Linked DNA regions of Homo sapiens: all the other regions are linked to region 4. The links come from fine-mapping of genetic effects on gene expression. A gene starts in region 4. Each other region holds a variant in brackets. All regions are shown on one strand. Distances are from middle to middle. Region 1 has its middle 23 kb from the start of PDZD8. Region 2 overlaps PDZD8 (PDZ domain containing 8). Region 3 overlaps PDZD8 (PDZ domain containing 8). Region 4 holds the start of PDZD8 (PDZ domain containing 8).

The links. PIP is the estimated chance that this variant, and not a neighbour inherited with it, causes the effect.
Region 1: its variant is the best candidate, but not a certain one, in a credible set for the expression of PDZD8 in whole blood (TwinsUK, PIP 0.88).
Region 2: its variant is the best candidate, but not a certain one, in a credible set for the expression of PDZD8 in iPS cells (PhLiPS, PIP 0.87).
Region 3: its variant is the best candidate, but not a certain one, in a credible set for the expression of PDZD8 in lymphoblastoid cells (GTEx, PIP 0.87).

What each region holds. Positions count from the first base shown.
Region 1 is chr10:117,395,607-117,401,272 of GRCh38, forward strand. No RefSeq gene overlaps it. Among named protein-coding and RNA genes, the nearest start is that of PDZD8, 23 kb to the left of the region's middle. The variant A/C (reference allele first, on the strand shown) is at 2,368.
Region 2 is chr10:117,328,959-117,334,624 of GRCh38, forward strand. All of the region lies in intron 2 of PDZD8 (PDZ domain containing 8), which reads right to left. Among named protein-coding and RNA genes, the nearest start is that of PDZD8, 44 kb to the right of the region's middle. The variant GTTTT/G (reference allele first, on the strand shown) is at 3,542.
Region 3 is chr10:117,341,004-117,346,669 of GRCh38, forward strand. It overlaps PDZD8 (PDZ domain containing 8), which reads right to left. Exons shown (of 5, transcript NM_173791.5): 2 at 1-99. Among named protein-coding and RNA genes, the nearest start is that of PDZD8, 32 kb to the right of the region's middle. The variant A/C (reference allele first, on the strand shown) is at 2,957.
Region 4 is chr10:117,372,704-117,378,369 of GRCh38, forward strand. PDZD8 (PDZ domain containing 8) reads right to left here and starts at 2,737. Exons shown (of 5, transcript NM_173791.5): 1 at 1,653-2,737. The coding sequence starts at 2,524. RefSeq lists silencers at 2,228-2,407, 2,508-2,827 and an enhancer at 3,058-3,177.

The DNA.
Region 1 (5,666 bases), 23 kb after region 4:
ATGCTTATTCCCTGGGCAATATGCTACCTGGGTGATGAAATAATCTGTACACCAAACCCCTGTGACATGCAATTTACCTGTATAACAAACCTGCACATATACCCCAGAACCTAAAATAAAAGCTAAAAATAAATAAATAAATAAAGTGGGAATAATGACATAGGGTTATTGGGAGGATTTAATGGCATAATATGTAGAAAGTACTTAACACAGGGCCTGGCACATATTTAGTGTCAATAAGTTAGCTATTATTAGTTAAATTTTTAAAAAACTCTATCTGATCATCTGATTATAGCAGTCAGGCTCATCTTCAACATATGTGGGGCCAGGGCTAGAGTACAAATGGTCTAAATATTTAAAATTATAACTAAGTGGCATGCGTTGTAGTCCCAGCTATTTGGGAGACTGAGGCAGGAGGATTGCTTGAGCTAAGGAGCTTGAGGCCAGCCTTGGCAACATAGGAACCCTATCTCTATTAAAACAACAACAACAACAACAAAAATTAGCTGGGCCTGTTGGCTCATGCCTGTAGTTTTAGTTACTTGGGACACTGAAGTAGGAGGATTGCTTGGGCCCAGAAGTTTGAGGCTGCTATGATTGCACACCACTGCACTGCAGCCTGGGTAACAGTGAGACTCTGTCTCTAAAAAAAAAAATTAAAAAAAATAATAATAACAAAATAGAAAATTATAAATCAAGCTGCAAAATACATTTTTTCTCCCCCTACATTGACAAATACGACTTCATAATGGAAATTTTCTTTTTAAGTTGGAAAACTATAGTTTTTATCTGACTGAAAGTCTACAAAATATCAAGAATAACTGAATTCAGGTATTACTGTGTACGTGCTATTGATGGCCCAGAAATATTTGAATGAGTGATAAAATAAAGACATATATCATGAGTCATTACATATTTCATAAATTTTTTTTCTTTCACAGCAAGAAAAAAACTAATTATCTAATTGCAATTAAAGTATGCAAATAATTTACATTCCATTGATATGATCCAAAAGATTAAAACATAAAATTATATTCAAAAAGTATCAAATTTTAATATATTTCCATCAAAAATGTAAAATGAAAGTAAATGTAATAGTTAAAGTTGAATATTTTTGAAAAAAATTTTTAAAGCATGAAAAATATTTACATTAAAAGGCAAAGTAGAGGGTCGGGCATGGTGGCTCATGCCTGTAATCCTAGCACTTTGGGAGGCTGAGGTGGGCGAATCTCAAGAGATTGAGACCATTCTGGCCAACATGGCGAAACCCTGCCACTACTAAAAATACAAAAATTAGCTGGGCGTGGTGGCGTGTGCCTGTAGTTGCAGCTACTCAGGAGCCTGAGGCAGGAGAATCACTTGAACCCAGGAGGCGGAGGTTGCAGTGAGCCAAGATCGTGCCACTGCATTCCAGCCTGGCTACAGAGTGAGACTCCATTTCCAAAAAAAAAAAAAGGGTTAGGCGAGGTGGCTCATGCCTGTAATCCCAGCACTTTGGGAGGCTGAGGCGGGCGATGGTTCACCTGATGTCAAGAGTCCAAAACCAGCCTGGCCAGCATGGTGAAACCCTGGCTCTACTAAAAATACAAAAATTAGCCAGGCATGGTGGCAGGTGCCTGTAATCCCAGCTAATTGGGAAGCTGAGGCAGGAGAATCTCTTGAACCCAGGAGGCGGAAGTTGCAGTGAGCCGAGATCGTGAGATTGCACTTCAGCCTGAGCAACAGAGCGAGACTCCGTCTCAAAAAAAAAAAAAAAAAAAAAAAAGGCAAAGTAGAAATTATAAATTAATGAGTGTAAAAATTATAGATGAAATTATTTCAGTAAAGTTACATTTTTTGTTTAAAATTTTAACAGTGGAGTTAAATCATAATAAATACTTTTACAAAAATAAACTATTCAGTATTCTAGCATTCACCGTTTTAACTTAGTTGCCAATACAAATAATCAGTACTACATGCACTTATTTCATGCCTAAAATTACAAATCATATCTTCAAGATGTCAATCATGACATTGGGTTATGGATAGTTGATACGTGATGGTTCTACTACAGCCTAACCACATGGTGACATTTTATTATGTGATTCGTGTAATTCATGAAGAGTTTAGGAACCACAAATGAAAGAAATAAAATGAAAAGAAAAGCTCAGCATGACAGGGAATGATACTATGCGAAACAAAAATCTGTTTTATTCATGCTCTCTGGGAGGAAGAAATTGACAAGTTAATTAATTTGCTTTTTCTCTTCCTAATGGTCCCTACCACTAAAATGCTCTCTGCCCTCTGAAGCTGTGTCCATCTCTGATGTTGGCAGCAGCAACCCAAAAACCTTTATGACCTTCAGGACAGGTAGCCTTTGTTTTGAGG[A/C]TAAAAGGTAAGAAATATGGAAAAGTGTTCCCTAGGGCTTGAGCAGCGTTGGTGCCAGGAGCAGATGTTTAGGATTAGGGGTAGTGATATGCCAGTGCTGAGCACCAGGTCCCATGTGACAAAGGAACACACATGTTCTTTAAGAAGTGTGTATGTGTGTGTATTAGTCTGTTCTCATGCTTCTATAAGGAACTACCAAGAGGTCTAATTGACTCACAGTTCTGCAGGCTGTACAGGAAGCATGGCTGGAAGGCCTCAGGAACTTACCATCATAGCGGAAGGTGAAGCGGAAACAAGCATGTGTTACCATGGCCTAGCAGGAGACAGAAAGAATAAAGGGGAAGCGCTACACACTTTTAAAGCAACAAGATCTCATGAGAACTCATATACTATCATGAGAACAGCAAGGGGGAAGTCTGCCCCCATGATCCAATCACCTCCCACCAGACCCCTCCTCCAACATGTGGGGATTACAATTTGGCCTGCGATTTGGGTGGGGACACAGAGCCAAACCATATCAGTGTGTGTGTGATATTATGGGGTCACCCTTCTCTTTCCCAGGTCTGAGGGCAATATGGAAAGGAATACCCTGGATAATTGACTGATTGATAGGTCATCTGGGGTATTTGCATTGCAAATAAGCACTTCTGCGTAGTCCCCAAAGAAGCCCTGGGATGAAGGGGGCCTTAGAAGGTGGTTTTGAACTGAGAGACTTCTTGCCTACATTGGCCCTTTCTGCCCGCCACACATCAGAAGAATGAGGTTCAGCAGCTGGGCATCTCATTCTGAGCCTGCACTCTGTACACTTTTGCTAAGGAAAAGTAGAGTCACATTGGTTAAGAAAATACATAGCAATCAAGTGTCTTAATTCTTTTTTTTTTTTGAGATGGAGTTTTGCTCTTGTTGCCTAGGCTGGAATGCAATGGCGTGATCTCGGCTCACCGCAATCTCTGCTTCCCGGGTTCAAGCAATTCTCCTGCCTCAGCCTCCCATGTAGCTGGGATTACAGGCGCACGGCACCATGCCCAGCTGATTTAGTATTTTTAGTAGAGATGGGGTTTCTCGATGTTAGCCAGGCTGGTCTCGAACTCCCAATTTCAGGTGATCTGCCCGCCTTGGCCTCCCAAAGTGCTGGGATTACAGGTGTGAGCCACCATGCCTGGCCTAAGTGTCTTAATTCTTAATTACCTAATAGCAGAGTTTCAGGAGAGTACTTTGACAAATAACTTAATAATAAACATATCAGAATGAAACAACTAATAGAAAAGGATAAGATCCTGATCTTCAGAAAATGCCAACACTTTTGTTTTTCTAAGTCATGAAAGAAATCATCAAGATATACTGCTCATAAAATGTCTACACATAAAGGTACCATTTATGAGCACAATACAACAGCCTAAGCCCTCCGATAAAAACTGAAGGAAGTGTAGAATTCTCATTTTATAGAGAAGGAAATGGAGGCACAGAGAGGCTAACTGGCTTGCACACGGTCATACAGCTGCTAAGTGGCAGGGGCAGTATTCCAAGCCAGCCACGTCCAGATTGTGACTGTGTAACCACCATGGCATACCAGCCCTTTGCTCTCTTCCACCATACATCCAAAGGAATCAGATAGTCAACATTAGCAAAGAAAAATTCCGTGGGACCCCTAGCTGACCATCTTTCTTCTGTGCACCCTTCAGTTTCCCCCAAAAGACAAATAAGTCTTTTTAGCACCATGTAAACATTTAATAAGCGTGTGTTAAATTTTCAGTTACAAAGTGTAAAGCAACATTTGCAGGCCTACCTTTCCTGTTGGGTAAAAACCTGACCACTGAACCATGGACTACCTCTTCCCTCTAATTGCAAAATGTTGACTTACTTCATCTTTTGAAGACCAATGATCTTTGCAAGGTTACTGTATGTTTAAAAAAAAAAGTGCCTTCAGGGCCTTGAGTCATAAGATGGGAAAACATGTTGAAGTGTTACAAAAATATTGACAGTATCTCTATGATTTTTCAGTATCTTTATGATTAATGAGATTTTAGGGCTGGACATGGTGGCTCACACCTGTAATCCTAGCACTTTGGGAGGCCAAGGTGGGCAGATTGCCTGAGCTCAGGAGTTAGAGACCAGTATCCTGGGCAACATGATGAAACACTGCCTCTACTGAAATACACACACAAAAAAAAAAAAAAAAAAAAAAAATTAGCCGGGAGTGGTGATGTGTATCTGTAGTCCCAGCTACTGGGGAGGCTGAGGCATGAGAATTGCTTGAACCCAGGAGGTGGAGGTTTCAGTGAGCCGAGATCACACCACTGCACTCCAGCCTGGGCAACACAGCAAGCAACTGTCTCCAAACAAAACAAAACAAAAAACCAAGATTAATGAGATTTTAAATAGCTTTACTGAGATATTTTTCACATACCTTAAAATTCACCCATTTAAAGTGTACAGTTCATTAGTTTTTAATATATTCAGAGTCGTGTCACCATTACTACAATCTAACTTTAGAACATTTTCAACGCCCTAAAGAGAAACCCATATCCATCAGCAATCACGCCCTATTTCTTCCCAACCCAGCAACCACAAATCACCTTCTGTCTCTAAGGATTTACTTAATTTGAATATTTCATGTGAAAGGAGTCAAACAATATATGGTCTTTTGTTACTGGCTTCTTGCACTTTGCATAATGTTTCAAGGTTCATCTGGTTGTAGCAGTTATCAGTACTTGATTTTTCTTATGGTCAAATAATATTCCATTATATGGATATATAATTTGTTTATGCTTTCATCTGTTAAGTGTTTAGGTTGCTTCAACTTTTTGTCTATTATGAATAATACTGCTATGAATATTTGTGTACAATTTTTAGTGTGGATGTAGGTTTTCATTTCTCTTGGGTATATACCAAGAAGTATAAACCCTGGATCATATGACTTTATGATAGCTCTATGTTTAACCTTTTGAGAAACTGCTAAACTTTTTTTCAAAGTAGCTGTACCATTTTACTTTCCCACCAGAGAGTATGAGGATTCCAATTTCTCCATTTGTTTGCCATCACTTGTCTTGATTTTAACCATCCTAATGGATGTGAGGTAGTATTCGATTGTGGTTTTGATGTGTATTTCCTTAAAGTCTAATGATGCTTTTCTTTGGATAAACGTGTTTTCAAATCTTTTGCTCATTTTTAAATTGGGCTATTTATCTTTTTATTACTAAGTTGCACGGGTTCCTTATAAATTCTAGGTACAATTTCTTTCTCAGATATATGTTTGCAAATATTTTCTCCAATTTTGTAAGTTTTCATTTCCTACTTTG
Region 2 (5,666 bases), 44 kb before region 4:
GGAAACGTGAGTACCAGCCAGTTAGGTGAATATAGACGACATTTGCTTTAGCTTAAGGTGAATTATAATCTCTACATTTAAACAAAAGGATAACTTTTCATTTCACATTTCTTACAGTTCAATCTTAAACAAAGACAGGCTTTCCATTCAAATTATATAATGACCAGAAGCAAGCAGTAACAATCACTGGCTAATAAATATTTTGCATAAATATAAACAAACATGTGTTAAATATGCAATAAATGAGTATAAATAAATTTCTACTACTACTACTTCCAAAGGGAAGTCAGTACTACTAAACAAAAAAGCAAAAGAAATTGCCTTTTATCTCCTCTAAATTGCCGTCTATCTCCTGAAAGAGCTATTACCTCTGTGAAATTTCTTACCAAGTTCAAAGTATTCTTTTAAAGGCAAAGGTATGTTGAAACCTTCCAGTAAGCATAAATACAAACACCACCTAGAAACATGTTAAGATCGTTTACATGATTAACCCATTTATACCGGAGGTTGAAAAATTTTTTTGTGAAAAATCAGACCTTGGCGATGACGTTGAGCAGTAGGATATAAATAACTCCCACAAGCTTAGAGTTCCAATAATGGAACACTAGGTATAAATGGATTAAAGATGAAACCAATGAGAAAAGGAAAGTAATTCCCAATGCTCATGCTATAAGAAAGTCATTTCTACAAAGAAAAGTACAAAATGATGGGGCATGGTGGCTCATGCCTGTAATCCCAGCACTCGGAGAGGCCAAAGTAGGTGAATACCTTGAGGCCAGGAATTCAAGACGAGCCTGGGCAACATGGCAAAACTCTGTCTCTACAAAAAATACAAAAAGGAGTTGGGTATGGTGGTGTATGCCTGTAGTCCTAGCTACTCGGGAGGCTGAAGTGGGAGGATTGCTTGAGCCTGGCGGGTGGAGGTTGCAGTGAGGCAAGACCAAGACACTGCACTCCAGTCTTGGTGACAGAATGAGACCCTGTCTCAAGAAAGGAAGGAGGGAGGAAGGGAAGGAAGGAAGGAAGGAAGGAAGGAAGGAAGGGAGGGAGGGAGGGAGGGAGGGAGGGAAGGAGGGAGGGAGGGAGGGAGGGAAAAATCTGTTTTTTTTTTTTCCTTTGGTGACTAAACTTAATTTGAAAGGAAAACCCTGCACTTGAAGGGGGTCAAATACCACTTCACCTGTTGTTAAAAGAATCAGGCTTGGTTGACCTTTTATACATGCTCACCTCCTCTCTATATTCCCAACCCCCCTCAGAAACATCCTCATGCAGAACTCAATTTTCCTCAATTTTCACGACTTCCAAATCTAATCTTCAGTCCTCATTTTCCCCCTGCTACCTCTAAAACCCCAAGAGTTTGCAGAACACTCCTACAGGGAAATCTAACCATGCCTTACTACTTAAGATATGTAAAATCAAATTCATCTGCCTTTGAAATGAGTACCTCTATTTCCCCATCCAGTCCTGGAAGGTAACTGTGTCTTGTTCTTTCTATCCTATAACATGCAGAAAATAATCAGTACTTGCTGAGCAGATCAACGTCAATGGATACATAACTCTCCTACACTCAGATCCTTAGAGTTCCTTTGCCTCCCCTGCCTATTAACTCATCCATATATTCAGTCACTCACTAAACCCTGTCCTAGTTATCCCACGTGTCCCTTCCTTCTTGTTCCTATTAAAACATATCTATGAGGCATTTACTTCCTCACCTTTAACCCACAACACCTCTTAAATTTGTCTCTGGGACTTCAATCTCTATATATACAATTTACTCCATAAATATGCACATTTTTCTTAATATCACCTTCAATAACTTTTCTCTGATTAAAGGATCACCATTGTAACTTCTCTTGCCAGCAAATTTGGCCCTGAGACATCTACACTTCATTCAGACAAGACCTGGAAAATACTTTACAATTCTAATTCTCTTTTATCTTATGGCTCTTTTTCCAATTACCTAAAATCTACAATCCATCTAGTTTCCTGAATCTTATCCATGAAGTTTTCCATGGTAGTGTCAATTCAAAAATACTTTTTCCTTGCACTAAGTTTCTATACTACCCATCACTTAAGCCTCAATTCAAATTAGACAGCCTCATATAGTTGACTTATTTATGCATTTGTTTTTGTCTGTTAGCCCTAACTACATTTTAAGTTTCTAGAGGGCAGACACTGAGCTCCATATTTTTTGTATTCATCGTAGTATTTAGACAAAATGCATTCACTATTGATGTTGGAAAGACTGGTGGTAGTGTGGTGGAAGCAGTAGTGGTGGTGGTAGTAGCAGAAATAGTTGAAGCAGCTAACATTTACTGTAAGGACAATTCTAAGAGCTTTACATTTATTATTTCATTTAATTTTCACAATTACTCAAGGAAATAGGTAATGGTATTACCCCTAATTTACACATTAGAAAATGAACACAGAGAGGTTGAGTAACATGCCAGACATTGCACAGCTAATAAATGAAAAGTCTGGACTATATAAGTTGAGACAAATGGGTTGAAAAAATTTTGAAAGAGAGAAAATAAAGGCAGTTGTCTTTTGGTTAAAATTACAAATGCTACCCGTGAATAAAATACATTAAAAGCACTGATTATCAAAGACACAATCCTCTTTTAAATTATTATTTTCTGACCACAGTTCATTTTTGCTGAAGGTATTGTATGAGTGTATAGCATACCAATACAGCATTTAAAACATTTTGGAGTATGGCATTTTAAAAAAGAGCACTGGTATTATGTCAGCTGTGTTCCTACTTAGTTTTCTTACATTCTCTTACAATTCAGACATCAGAAGAATTAAAGAGCTATATTTTGTAGTATGAAACAGTAGTGGAGGTATACAATTACAAAAGAAACAAGGCTATTTTCCAGCATCACAACCTTAGGGAAAAGGATATGGGGAAGAAAAGAGAGCCTACATAAATACAGGAGGGAGAAATTCCAAATTTGCAGTCTTTTGAAAAGTCTGCCTCTAGTCAAAAGCAACCTAATTATACGGAAGATTCTTTATATCTGAGAGAAATGTATAAAAACTAACGGAAAACATCACTCAACTTTTATTTAACTGCATATAAGATGTTAAATAATTAATAAATGCAAACATAGTCTCAAAATCTTTACAGGAACTTGGTTCATCTGGTAGAGTTATGCCTAAATTTACACAGAATTACACAGCTTTAAAGACTTTGAGGAATAATATTCAGCAACAATTCCAAGTAATTCCTTCTGGTTTTCAAAAGCATTCATTTTGAGTGCAACTTTTCCTTTATACAAATTTAAATGTCTTATGCCTGAGCTAATTTCCTCTTATCGTTCCCTCCAAGAAAAAAACAAAAAACAAAAAACAGAACTTCAGCCTTCAACTAAAAAATACTTCATTATTATACACATTTCTCCATCCCTCGATCTTTCTGAAAAGGTAATTTATTTTAAAAATAATGCCCTGCCCTAAAAAATGTTACAATTTTCCAAAACCTACACTTCTAACATAATATAAAAGTTTTCAGAACCAAAATAATTTTTATTCTGTAAGG[GTTTT/G]TTTTTTTTTTTTTTTTTTTGAGACTGAGTTCTGCTCTTGTTGCCCAGGCTGGAGTGCAATGGCGCCATCTTGACTCACCGCAACCTCCGCCTCCTGGGTTCAGGTGATTATCTTGCCTCAGCCTCCCGAGTAACTGGGATTACAGGCATATGCCACCACGCCTGGCTAAGTTTTGTATTTTTAGCAGAAATGGGGTTTCTCCATGTTGATCAGGCTGGTCTTGAACTCCCGACCTCAGGTGATCCACCCACCTCGGCCTCCCAAAGTGCTGGGATTACAGGCGTGAATCACCACGCCTGGCCTCTGTAAAGTTTTTTTAAAAAAGGATATGGGCCAGGCGTGGTGGCTCATGCCTGTAATCCCAGCACTTTGGGGGGCCAAGGCAGGCAGATCACTTGAGGTCAGGAGTTTGAGACCAGCCAGGCCAACATGGTGAAACGCCCGTCTCTACTAAAAATACAAAAATTAGATGGGTGTGGTGGCGGGTGCCTGTAATCTCAGCTATTTGAGAAGCTGAGGCAGGAGAATCACTTGAACTTGGTAGGCATAGGTTGTGGTGAGTGGAGATTGCACCATTGCACTCCAGCCTGGACAGCAGAGTGGACTCTGTCTCAAAAAAAAAAAAAAAAAAAAAAAAAAGGGGATATGGAGGCAGAATAAGATAACAGAAAGACCGAGGAACTCTGGAGTTAGACAAAACTAGATTCAAATTCCAGTGGTACTGAGCAAGTAACTTGTGGATCTCAGTTCATCTATAAAATGGATATAATAACACTAATCTTGTAACGATGCTCTAAGAGCTGAAAATAATACATGCAGTAAAGTACCTACATATTGCAGATAATAAGTACAACTAATAATACAATTATTTGTAGAGCCATGCCCCAAATATCTTCAGATTTAGCTAGATATTTTTCCTTAAAAAAATGTCAAAACATTAAAATAAAGGCAGGTAATATAAGAAGCACCCACATACCAACTACTCAGGAAAAAAGCAAATATTATTATTTAGCCTCATTTGCTTCAGGTGGATTTAAGTTATATTCAAGCCAAAATAACCAAACAAATTTAATCAAACTCAATGCTAACATAAACGGGATTCATAGACAAATGCAAACTGGAAATATTTTGAAGTTATAACTACTAAAATAGCTCCTCTTGTAAATGAATTTCAAAATTTCATAATATTAGCAGCCTTCCCTACAGAACTAAACATTTCACTTTAAAATATGAACATAATGCTATTTAAAGGATTAATTCCCTATTTCTCTCTTCTGTCAAACTTCTACTTTGAAAATGCTTCACCTAATATGTGAATCAAGACCAGATGACAACACTAAAAAAGAATTTAATCACATAATTAAATGATTTTCTTTGCCTTAAAAGATCAATGTATTTCTGGTTCCAGAATGATGTCAAGAGTGGTGACACAGTTTTGAGTCTCCCCAAAACCCCCCCATAAAAGGACAAAAAGCAATGAGGGAAACAAAAGCAAAATTCAACAACATGTACAACAAAATGAGGTGGCCAATACTTTAACAGTAGTGAAGTGTCACTCAAATTCTTCCACAGATTGTAATTATAAAAACTGGATAAACAAAATTTTTTATCACATTTAAAGACAATGAAAACCTTCTGAATGTAGACAGAAGCCTGCTTTGAGATTAATATTTCAATTATCAAAAAACTGCAGCTGCAGGCAGGGCACAGGGCTTCATGCCTGTAATGTTGGGCTTCATGCCCAGCACTTTGGGAGGTTGAAGCTGGTGGGCTGGATGAAGCTGGTTGAAGCAGGAGTTTATGACTAGCCTAAGCAACAGGATAAAACTCTTTCTCTACTAAAAATACAAAAAATTAGCCAGATGTTGGTGTCACATGCCTGTGGTCCCAGCTACTTGGGAGGCTGAGGCGGGAGGATCGCTTGAGCCCAGGAGGTCAAGGCTGTGGTAAGGCATGATCATGTAACTGCACTCCAGCTTGGGTGACAGAGCAAGACCCTGTCTCAAAACAAAACAAAACAAAACTGACTCCTAATGTGCTCAGATACTAGATTTAGCAGATCAAGGCTTCAATGCAGCCATTATATATATATATGGCTCAAAAAACTGACAGAACATTTG
Region 3 (5,666 bases), 32 kb before region 4:
TTAAGACGGCCTTCAGTAAGTGCCCATTGTTGTATATGGATATGCTCTTCATCTTCTTCAAATCCTTGCAAGGTCTGGTATGGAAAAAACGGCTTAAACCTGACAAAAGTAAAGATAAGTCTAAATGTCTGAATAATAAACACCACAGTTTAAAGCATAACAAAACTCACCTGTACAAAAACACAAAGCAAAATGAACACCTAATACTACACGTGCTCTACAAAACCAAAGCTTACCACACTCCCCCATAACTGGCAGCAAATGGTGCCTTCGCTATGGCACCCATAAGTCTTGGTTTTTTGGTATGCCCCCATTGATAAGGCAAGAGAGAACAAAGAAAAGAAAAGCCTAGAGGCAGCAAGTAGGCCATGAAGTTTAGGTGGGGCAGGAGAGAGACTGTGAACCAGATGGGAAGAGTGTTCCTACGGTACAAGATCAAAATTCAGAATGCATGTTCCATGGAAATAATATACAGTCCCCTTGGCATCCATGGGGGATTGGTTCCAGTACTTCCCAAGGATACCAAAATCCCAGGATGCTCAAGTCTCTAATATAAAATGGCCCAGTATCTGCATTATACACATTCTCCCATATGTTTTGAATCATCTCCAGATTACTTATAATACCTAATACAATGTAAATGCTATGTAAATAGTTGTTAAGACTATATTGTTCAGAGAATAATGACAAGGAAAAAAGTCTGTACATGTTCAGCGCAGATTAAATTTTTAAAAAATATTTTCAATCCACAGTTGTTTGAATCCATGGATGTGGAACCCATGGATGTGGAGCCCACGAATACAGAGAGCTGACTATTACAGACAGTGATTAGTACATGATAAAGATGACTGTAATAGCAACATCAATAACAATTAACACAGCAGAGATATTCATTAGAGATGTTTACTATTTGCCAGGCAGTATGCTAAGTGCTTTTTACATGCATTATCTTATTTAATGCTCACAACCCTGAAGAGGGCAATATTATTGGCTCCTCTCTCCAGATGAAAAGAATGAAGCTTAGGAAGGTTAACAAGTTTGTTCAATTTTACAAAGTGAATGGCAAAACCAGAATTCAAGCTAGTCTAATTCCAAAGTCCAACTATATAACACCTCAGTTACCTATGAATTATCCAGGCATTCATATGCTCATCACTAATATTGTTGTTTTTATGGAGAAGTTTGTGCTGAGTTATAAACTGTAGGTTTTAAAAAACTTTTAATTTAAAACACAACTCATACTCCTCCATTAAAGCTAAAGAAAAAGAAAATGAAAGAAAATTGGGCTTAAAGCCCCGTGGTTTTCAATTCACCCTACACATTGTCACTAGCCATGATATCTACTTGCTCAGAAAGTTTTAGTGGCTTCTTACTGACCACACAAACAGATACACACACACACACACACACACACACACACACACATAGTCAAAAGTTCTTGGTTTCACATTTAAGGTCCACCACAATTAATGTTCCTTTTTTATTTTTTCTTGAGACACAGTCTTGCTCTGTTGCCCAAGCTGGAGTGCAGTGGCACGATCTTGGCTCACTGCAACCTCTGCCTCCTTGATTCAAGCTATTCTCTTGCCTCAGCCTCCCAAGTGGCTGGGATTACAGGCATGCACCACTATACCTGGATGATTTTTGTATTTTTAGCAGAGATGGGGTTTTGCCACGCTGGCCAGATCAGTCTTGAACTCCTGACCTCAAGTGATCTGCCTGCCTCGGCCTCCCACATGGCCTCCCAAAGTGCTGGGATTACAGGCCTGAGCCACCACACCCAGCCCACAATTAATCTTTCTAATCATATATTCTCTTAATATAAACATTCCAATCTAGAAAGTCACCTCATATGCCCAGAAGACACTATGAATATTCCTGCCTTCAGGCCTTTCATACCAACTGGAAGTTTTCCCAGATTCCTCAAAGCCTGTCCAAATCCTCCCCTCTTTCGCACTCGGCCATACATGCTGCTTTCACTCTTCTCTATCTTGCAGTCCTCTAAATTGCGTGCATTTATGCCTTAAAATGTCAAATATGACTTAGTCTCACAATTCTCTGCATCCATCATCCATACCTGACGGGATGTTTCACACACTATCAGGATTTGAGTATGTGTTGCGCTGATTTACAAAGAGTTAACACTAAAACTGAAATAAACACTTAGAAAATATCAATGGCCTACTATAGTTTATACTGAAAGACACTAATAGAGGGGGTTAAATGCTGTTTTATGTTTTCCCAGTAAGTAAGATTAAAGAAAAAAATTTTAAGGAAATGTTAAGTAGGGACACAGGCGATGCTCAGTGGTTTTCTCCTGTTTCTAAACTAGTATGGAAAGCAGAAAGCCCCCCGAGTTTCTCCCAACTAAAACGCTAATTTGCATTTGAAGTCATTTGATTCAGACAGACTGGCACCAAATTTTTAGAGGGAAAAAAACTAGTAACTAAATTTATATCAATATAATGTTGTAGCTGGGTGCTTTTAACACACAGTCCTTATGACTCCTGAAAAACATATAACTGTTAGTTTGTAAAAAAATTATAATAACCATATACACTAGAAACTTTGAATTTAATAATCCAAGTTAGCTAAATCACAACTGCTCTAAGAACCAGCTTTCCTTGTCAAATATAAAGTCAAAATTCAATAAAATTTCTCACAGGAGTATGAGTTGAATGTTATATGGATTAAAGTCTAATTTGGATTTACTAATGCTCAGGGGGTTTTGCTAAGAGTGTTTATGCACAAAAATAATCTAAAATCAGAACAACGTATTCCATTTTAAATGAATATACTAAACGGTGGGATAAAGCATGAACATGTTCGGCAAGCCAATAAATAGAATCCACACATTAACATTCTCTAAGAACCTTTGGTTTTCAGAATTTTTAAGTCCAAGTCTTTAAGTATCCCAAACCCATAAAGAATCCAAACAATGAAGCGGGCTACCTCT[A/C]TCACTTTCTTTTATCTTCCTATTCCATCATATCATCTTTCTTCAAAATCCATTAGTCTTTATTTCCTAATTAACCTATTAACTCAAAAATGTCAGTTTTCTCACTCAGGCTTCCCCGCAAAATAGTCTTAACAAACTACCTGTACTTCCTCCTGTAGAAAACTTAAAAACCCAAACTAGGAAGATCGACTTTAAGGATGACAGTATGAAGAGCCCTGCTGATCTGCTCCCCAGTGAAATTCGTGAAAATTATTTTAAACCAAAACATTTACAGCCTCTGGAAATGATCTTAAGAGCAAACAGCAAATTTTAAAAATCTACTTAAGAAAATCGATGACAATTTGATAAGAAAGCCAAGTCTGTGGTGTTTGAACCCTGTTTCCCCAACAAGCTCAGGGTGGCAGATTCCACAGTAGACTTCTTTACTTTTTATTTTTTATTTTTTTGAGACGGAGTCTCAATTTGTCGCCCAGGCTGGAGTGCAGTGGCACAATCTCGGCTCACTGCAAGCTCTACCGCCTGGGTTCACGCCATTCTCCTGCCTCAGCCTCCCGAGTAGCTGGGACTACAGGCGCCCACCACCACACCCGGCTATTTTTTTGTATTTTTAGTAGAGATGGGGTTTCACCGTGTTAGCCAGGATGGTCTCTATCTCCTGACCTCGTGATCTGCCCACCTCGGCCTCCCAAAGTGCTGGGATTACAGGCGTGAGCCACCACGCCCGGCCACTCCATGCTAGACTTCTATTGCCAGGAACACAGGGCTCCCTCATCCCACAGCTCTCATTTGGTGGGCTTTCTCCCTGGGAAGAGGAGGATAGGAACATTTCTCATCTAGCCTCCAGTCACCTGTTACTTCCAGGCAAGTTCAGTCAAGAGGAGGGGGATTCCTTCATTGACCCAGCCCCCACTCATGGAATGGAGGGTCTACCTTGGGCACAGAACACTGAGAATACTGGAACCCTGACTGTCTTGCCCTGGCTCATGAGGAAGTGGTTCCATAGTGGGAAAGGCAAGCCAAGAGGACCTCTGGCTACTCTATCCCCAATCTAGCACTCAGCTCCTAGAGTTGTGGTATCACCCAGAGAGAAGCCTGCAGTAGTCTTCACCCCTAGCTCCAGAGACCTGGTTCTGATTATTTTGCTAAGGGGAAAAGAAGAGGGAGAGGCAAGTCAGAAAACAGATTCTCCCAATCTCTTCCCAAAGGAATTAATTTCATTTACAATAGTCTGTGAAGAAGCTCAAACCTAAAGGCACTACCAAGAACAATGGAGGTTGTGGTGAAAAGCACATGTCTTCCTTCATGGATTTAAGGAAGACATATCCTAGGCTGCAGGCTGCTGTGCCCCTAGTAGAGAAACAGGAAATAAGACAGCTGGGAGGAGCCCTCCTGGGGTGAGAGCAAATATCAAACACTTACCCAAGAAACTATTCCTGAAGGAGGCACAATTTGACTGGAATAGTTTGTAGAACAAGTTATGCCCCTGGGTGCTGTTAAAAGCAATAAGAGAGTTAACACTAGTGGGGGGGTAAGTGGGGTGGGTGTACTGTACTAAAATAATCCAGGCAGTCAACCTAAAAACAGACAAGCAAATATCAAGCTCTGGGTAAGGGGAGACCAGTATCTAAGGTTGCTACAATATATTATCTAAAGTGTCTGGTTTCCAAGAAAAAGTTATGAGACATAAAAAGAAACAGAAAAGTATGACCCATACAGCAAAAAACAAAGAAAAAACAAAACAAAACAAACAAACAAAAAAACACACACTGCCTGTGAGAAGGACCAGATGTTAGATTTAACAGAAAAAGATTCAAAATTTGTGGAGACCAAAGTTCTTATTTACAGAGGAAGCCTTCAGGTAGTAGGCTTTGGAGAGAATAGGCTGTAAAACGTTTCTTATCAGACTTAAAGTCTGTGTCCATGTTAAATATGTCTCCATAAATATGTTCATGGAAAAAGACATGATTAAAGAACTATAGGGGTTCAGCTATAGGGGTTCAGCCAGGCGCGGTGGCTCAAGCCTGTAATCCCAGCACTTTGGGAGGCTGAGGCGGGCAGATCACCTGAGGTCAGGAGTTCGAGACCAGCCTGACCAATATGATGAAATCCCGTCTCTACTAAAAATATAAAAATTAGCCGGGCGTGGTGGCATGCACCTGTAATCCCAGCTACTCAGGAGGCTGAGACAGGAGAATCGCTTGAACCTGGGAGGCGGAGGTTGCAGTGAGCCGAGATTGCACTCCAGCCTAGGCAACAAGAGCGAAACTCCGTCCAAAAAAAAAAAAAAAAAAACTATAGGGAGGTATTATGACAATGTTACACTAAATAGAGCATACCAATAAAGAGACAGGAATTGTAAAAAAAGAAACTATGAACCAAAAATAAAATTCTAAGATCCCCCCAACCACCTGATTGAATTTCCTCCTCAGCCAGGGCACTCTTAAAATTTAATCTGAAAGAATGGTTCAAGCCATGATGGCAAATGGGGGTCGGACATGCCAGAGATGCCTCATTATACCCCTCCAGCATTAATAATACAGGAGTTATTAATAAGTAATTTTTAGGCAGCAAGAAAGGGTGAAAGTTCTCGGTGGAATTTTCCTTTAATAAAAAGCAGCCCCCAAATCATTTCTTCTCTAACAGAAAGCAGCCACAGAAGTCAGGCATAATATGCAAACTAGGAGCTTTTATATGTAAATGCCAGCAGCTG
Region 4 (5,666 bases):
GAAATCGAACACAGTGAACAACCAGTTCACCACCCTCCGCAAATCTATGGAAATATTTCCATTACAAAGTAAATTTCTCCTGCCACGCAAGTTTTAAACTGTCACTCTGCGCTGTTAGCCTAAACAAAACATAATTGGTAAGGTACATCTGCCACATACAGAAGTCAATAATCCATTCCAAACCCAAAATATTTCTGGATTATCTTGCTCCTGAAAATTGACACTGGTAGAAAATTAGTGATCCAGAAATAGGCAACTTCCACTAAAAGGCAAGTAAAATTAGGTAAGTAAAATACAAGACTGACATAATTTTATAATAAAGGGCAAAATTTTAAAGGCTCAAATGTCTTAGTGAATACAAAATTAAAGGAGGACCGAAAGAGAAGTTAAAAATTCAGCTTTTTACAAAAGAAAAAGCACCTTCCACTCCACCTCTAGCCCTAAAAAAGTCTTTCCCCTTCCACTCCTACAATATTAAAACAAAATTTATATACTACTCAAAACTGTATACCACAAAATTTAAGCCATCAGATGCTGGAAGGCTTAAACAAAATTAAAATCACTACCTAGCATTAAAATACAATTTGTACAGTGACTTCAGGTCCCTTGAGAGAAGAACTTACAGTCACAGAGAGTAAATGCTTGATGGGCAGAGTCTGGATCTGTGTTCTACAATCTACCCAAAATGGGCAAATGACATTAATACAAAATGTAAAGTACACTATGTACAGGCTCCCAACTCCTTTCCCATCTGCTGTGGAAAGTATTCCCGGGCCGGGCGCGGTGGTTCACTCCTGTAATCCTAACACTTTGGGAGGCCGAGGCAGGCGGATTACTTGAGGTCAGGAGTTCGAAACCAGCCTGGCCAATACGGTGAAACTCCGTCTCTACTAAAAAATACAAAAAAAAAAAAAAAAAAAAAAAAAATCAGCAAGGCGTGGTGCCATACGCCTGTAACCCCAGCTACCTGGGAGGCTGAGGCAGGAGAATCGCTCGAACCTGGGAGGCAGAGGTTGCAGTAAGCCGAGATCGCGCCACTGTACTCCAGCCTGGGCGACACAGCAAGACTCTGTCTCAAAAACAAAAACAAAAAAAACCCACAAAAGTATTCCTTTGCAAGAGTTACCACCTCTGCCTTGAAAGGTGTCAAACCATCAAAGCAAAAGTGGCTTGCAATGTCAAATTAGCACAGACCTGGGCTATAAGCACACTCTTCACGCGTGTACTGTGTCCAGGAACAATTTCTCAAAGCGGCCAAGGGGATGCTGCAAAGCCAGTGACGCGGCTGCCCTCAATGCAGCAACCACATAGAGGGAGAGTTTCTCAACAGTCCCAGAAGCGACTCCTGGGGATTAGGGTAGGCTTCCCTTCCATTTCCAATATGCTGCTTATAAAAGGAGACGATTCTGCCCGCGTTGACAGCACCCTGAGTCCCCATGAACACGCGAAAAGGTTTCTAGCTCCTATCAATGCCGTTCGGAAGCAAAGCAAGTGTTCACGACTCGCCTTGATCTGGGGCCCTGTCCAGGGTGGGAAGGCCCCAGAAGCAGGCGCCAGGACAGAAATGAGCCTTTGCCCTTCCCAATCCACGCAGCGTCCCGCCCAGGCCCGGGTTCCCGGCAGCCAGGCCCCCTCCCCGACCTCCAGCTCACCTGATCTTGTAATTCGGTAGGGTGTGCTTGCGCTTGATGATCTTCTTGAGCTGGTTGACGATGATGGAGGTGAGCTGGGGCATGGGCCGCCCTTCAAACTGGGAGCGCACCTCGAAGTCGATCAGCGGGTCTTCCACGAAGGAGAAGAACCAGTGGGTGAAGGGCACGCGCGTAAAGACCAAGCGCAGCCTTCCCACCACGCGGGACAGCTTGACAAACAAGTAGGCGGACTTGCCGAAGACCAGGTCCACGTCGATGGCCAGGTGGAAGCCCCCGTTGTACTCCACCTCCGCCTCGAAGGCCAGCTCCTCGGGGCAGGCGGCGGGCAGCGCCTCCCCTTCAGGGCCATCGGGCTCCCCGGTGGCCGAGGGCACGACTGGCCGCACGAGCCGGATGGTCTTGATGAAGGGCACCGTCTCGCCCAGGAACACGTCCCGCAGGCTCAGCCCCTCCAGCAGGCGCCCGGCCGTCTTGGTCTGCAGCAGCTCCTCGAACTCCACCTTGATCTTCTTGGTGACCCAGCGGCGGGTCAGCGCGGTGTCCCGCAACTCCCGGAACAGGAATAGGATGGTGGCGTTGAGGAAGTAGCAAGTCTCCCGCGTCGGCGGGGCGGGGGTCTCGGGGGCCGCGGTGGGGGTCGCGCCGCCCTCAGGGGCCGCTCCGGAGGGCTCCTCATCCCGGCCGCCGCCATAAAGGTACTCCCTTAGGAGCAGGCCCGGCACTGGCTTGATGTAGCGGAAGCCCTCGCCCGCGCGGGCGGCCTCGTCCGCCGGCGGCTCGGGCTGTCTGCGGTACAGCAGGAAGAACTGGGCGAGGAGCGTGAGGAAGGAACCCAGCACGGCCGACGCCAGGATCATGAGCAGCAGCCCCATCCCGCCACCGCCTCCGCCCGGGCCCCTACTCCCGCGCCCACAGCGCCGCTTTCTTCACGCCGCCGCCCCCGCTGCCTCCATTTTGAGGACATCGGGCGGCTGGGTCGGGGCGAGCGGCTCCGTGGGCCTCGTCCAGGGGCTCGGGCCGGCGCGCTGCGGCGCCCGAGCCCGCAGCGGCCCGCGCCTCCTCAGACGCTCCCGAAGGGCCGGTGTGGCGGCGGCGGCAGCGGGGCCGGGACCGGCGCCTCCCTCAGGCCTCCACTCATTGGACGAGCAGCGCGTGACGTCAGAGGCGTGCTCGCTCCCGGCGGCGTCGCCCAGCAGTCGGCGCCCGGGCACGCGGACGCGGGTCCTCCTTTACTTCTCTGCGGCCCTTCCAACCTCGTCCCCCCACGCCAACATTCCAATCCCCGCGGCGCGCGCCGCCACCCACGTGGCCGTCACTTCTGGAGCTGCGGTCGGGATCTGGGAGGACGGCTGGGGACGCGGGCTGGAGGATAAGGCGGTCCGGCGGAGCGGGCCTGACGCGTTCCGGATGCCGGCCATCCCGTTATCCTCGGCTGCGCCCATCCCCCGTCTCTGGCCGCAGTCCCCGCGGTTACCTCTGCAGCGGCGTCGCTCATCCTGCGGTGTGCTTCTTCCACTCGCACCCGTGACAGCCCGGCTGGCAGCGGCGCTTTCCCTGCGGGCAGCACCGCAGACGATCCGAGCGGGCCTTTCGGACGCTTCCCAAGCCCACGGCGAGAGGGGACCGACTGCCTCAGAGGCAGCCATCGCGGACCTGCCGTCCCCCCGGCAGACGCTCTGCGTCCGCGGAGGGTGGGCCCTGGGAAGGAGGGACGCAGGGAAAGGGCGCGCCACGCGGAATGACTTTCCCACCGAGGTGGATCTTCGAAATTTCAGGGAGGAGGAAGTTGAAAGAACAGCCAGGAGGAGAGATGCATAGTGAAACGAGTTTGCCAAGTGATTGGAAGATTAATATGCGACCCGCTGTCAGTCTCTGGTTAAGCCGGTAGTCCATCTATGAGGCAGTTATTCACTGTTAGCCCCCACCCACTTGACAGATGCCAACACTGGTGCAGAGAGCGTGGGGAGGTTGCGTGGGGCCGCAGAGTGGAGCCTGGTTTATCTAACACTAAACCCTAATGTCTTGATCACTACTCTCTGCCCTAACACAGAAACTGCTTCAGTTGTAAGCAGGCCAGTGGGTTCCCTAATGTTCAGGAAGGGAGAATTGGGGAGGCGGATTAGGGAAGACGGCAAGGAATTTTGCATAGAGTAGCACCTTAACCAAAGCCACGAAGCTAAGCCAGGTTGCCCAGCAACAGCGTTACTCCTCCTGCCCTCTGACTACTTAGTGGTTACATCATAAATGCTTATCCCTCCAAGCACGTGGAGTTCCAGTCCTGCAGGAGTCAGATATCCCATACCTTAAAGGCCGATTCTGGCTGTACCTAAGGAGCCAGGGCAGGGCTCCTCTCTAGCCCTTGAAAACCTTCAAGCCGGCCGGGCGTGGTGGCTCACGCCTGTAATCCCAGCACTTTGGGAGGCCGAGGCGGGCAGATCACGAGGTCAAGAGATCGAGACCAGCCTGGCCAACATGGTGAAACCCGTCTATACTAAAAATACAAAAATTAACCGGTCGTGGTGGTGCGCGCCTGTAGTCCCAGCTACTCAGGAGGCTGAGGCAGGAGAATCACTTGAACCCGGTAGGCGGGGGTTGCAGTGAGCCAAGATCACGCCATTGCACCCCAGCCTGGGCGACAGTGCAAGACCCTGTCTCAAAAAAAAAAGAAGAAAACCTCCAAGCCAAGGATTCTCTTAACTGTAGGTGATTCTACCACAAAAATAGACCTGACCCAGCTGGGACAGGTACAGAACTTCGGAACCAGGCTTATCATGCCTTACCGAATCATGCCCAGATACGAAACCAGAATGGCTTTCATTACTATGAAGACATAAGATAGGTGTCTGCTGAGGAACCATGCTCAAACCATGGCCGAGATTTTTCGGAGATCTTGGCAACTTCTGTTCTCTGGTCCCCTTTGGTTCCTGGCCTCTGCTTCTGGGCTGCTCTCTGGGATCTACACTGTTTCAACTCAAATGAGAAATGTAGACCCTTCTATGATTTCCACCGTAAACCTATTCATAACATTCATGCACATTGCATATTATAAATGTTACAGAAGCTGGAAGTAGGGTGGCATGAAAGAAGTTATTCACATTCCTGAAATATAAAACCCTCAAACTGTATATTGATCCATCCCGAGTTGCAAAATATTCTTCACCCACCTCCCTCCTCAACAATGAAAGTTTGTGGTCTTCATGGGAATGAGTCCTCAGTCTTCATCTTGCAGACTCCTTTCTTTTCTCTTCTCCTCTCACTTCTGCGCTCCTCAGAATACCTGTGAGAATCTTAAATCTTCTCAGTTTGTTTTACAGAGTCAGAGTCATTGCATTCCCCAGCAAAACTTGACCCCTTAGGGACACACTTCAAATCCATGAAAGAGCTCAGCAAACCTTTTGGGAAGAAAAAAGTATTCTCCCTTGTGTGAAACATGACCAACATTGATTAAACACTAATAATAATAATACAGAGAACTGACCATGTGCCAAGCACAGTGTTAAGCATGTTATTTAGAAATATTTAAATATTTCAAACATTATTTAGAAATCAAAATATCATGAGTTTTTGTAAAGTCAAATATGCAGTCATGCACCATAGAAGGATGTTCTTGTTAACGACAGACTGCCTATAGGATGGTGGCCCCATAGGATTATAGTACCGTATTTTTACTATGCCATTTCTGTGTTTAGAGATGTTTTGATACACAGATACCATTGTGTTATGGTTGCCTACAGTATTCAGTACAGCAACGTGCTGTATAGATTTGTAGCCTAGGAACAATAGGCTATACAATATGGCCCAGGTATGTAGTAGGGTTTCCCATCTAGGTTTGTGTAAGGACACTCTGATGTTCGCACAATGATGAAACTGCCTAAAGATTCACAACTTATGTCTGTTGTTAAGCCACACTTGACTGTGTTTGATAAGTTAGGAGATAATGCTCTGGATAATATTGGTGTTAGCATGCCCTTTATTTTATGAAATTATACTATGTTAATAGAGACGAATTTGTTT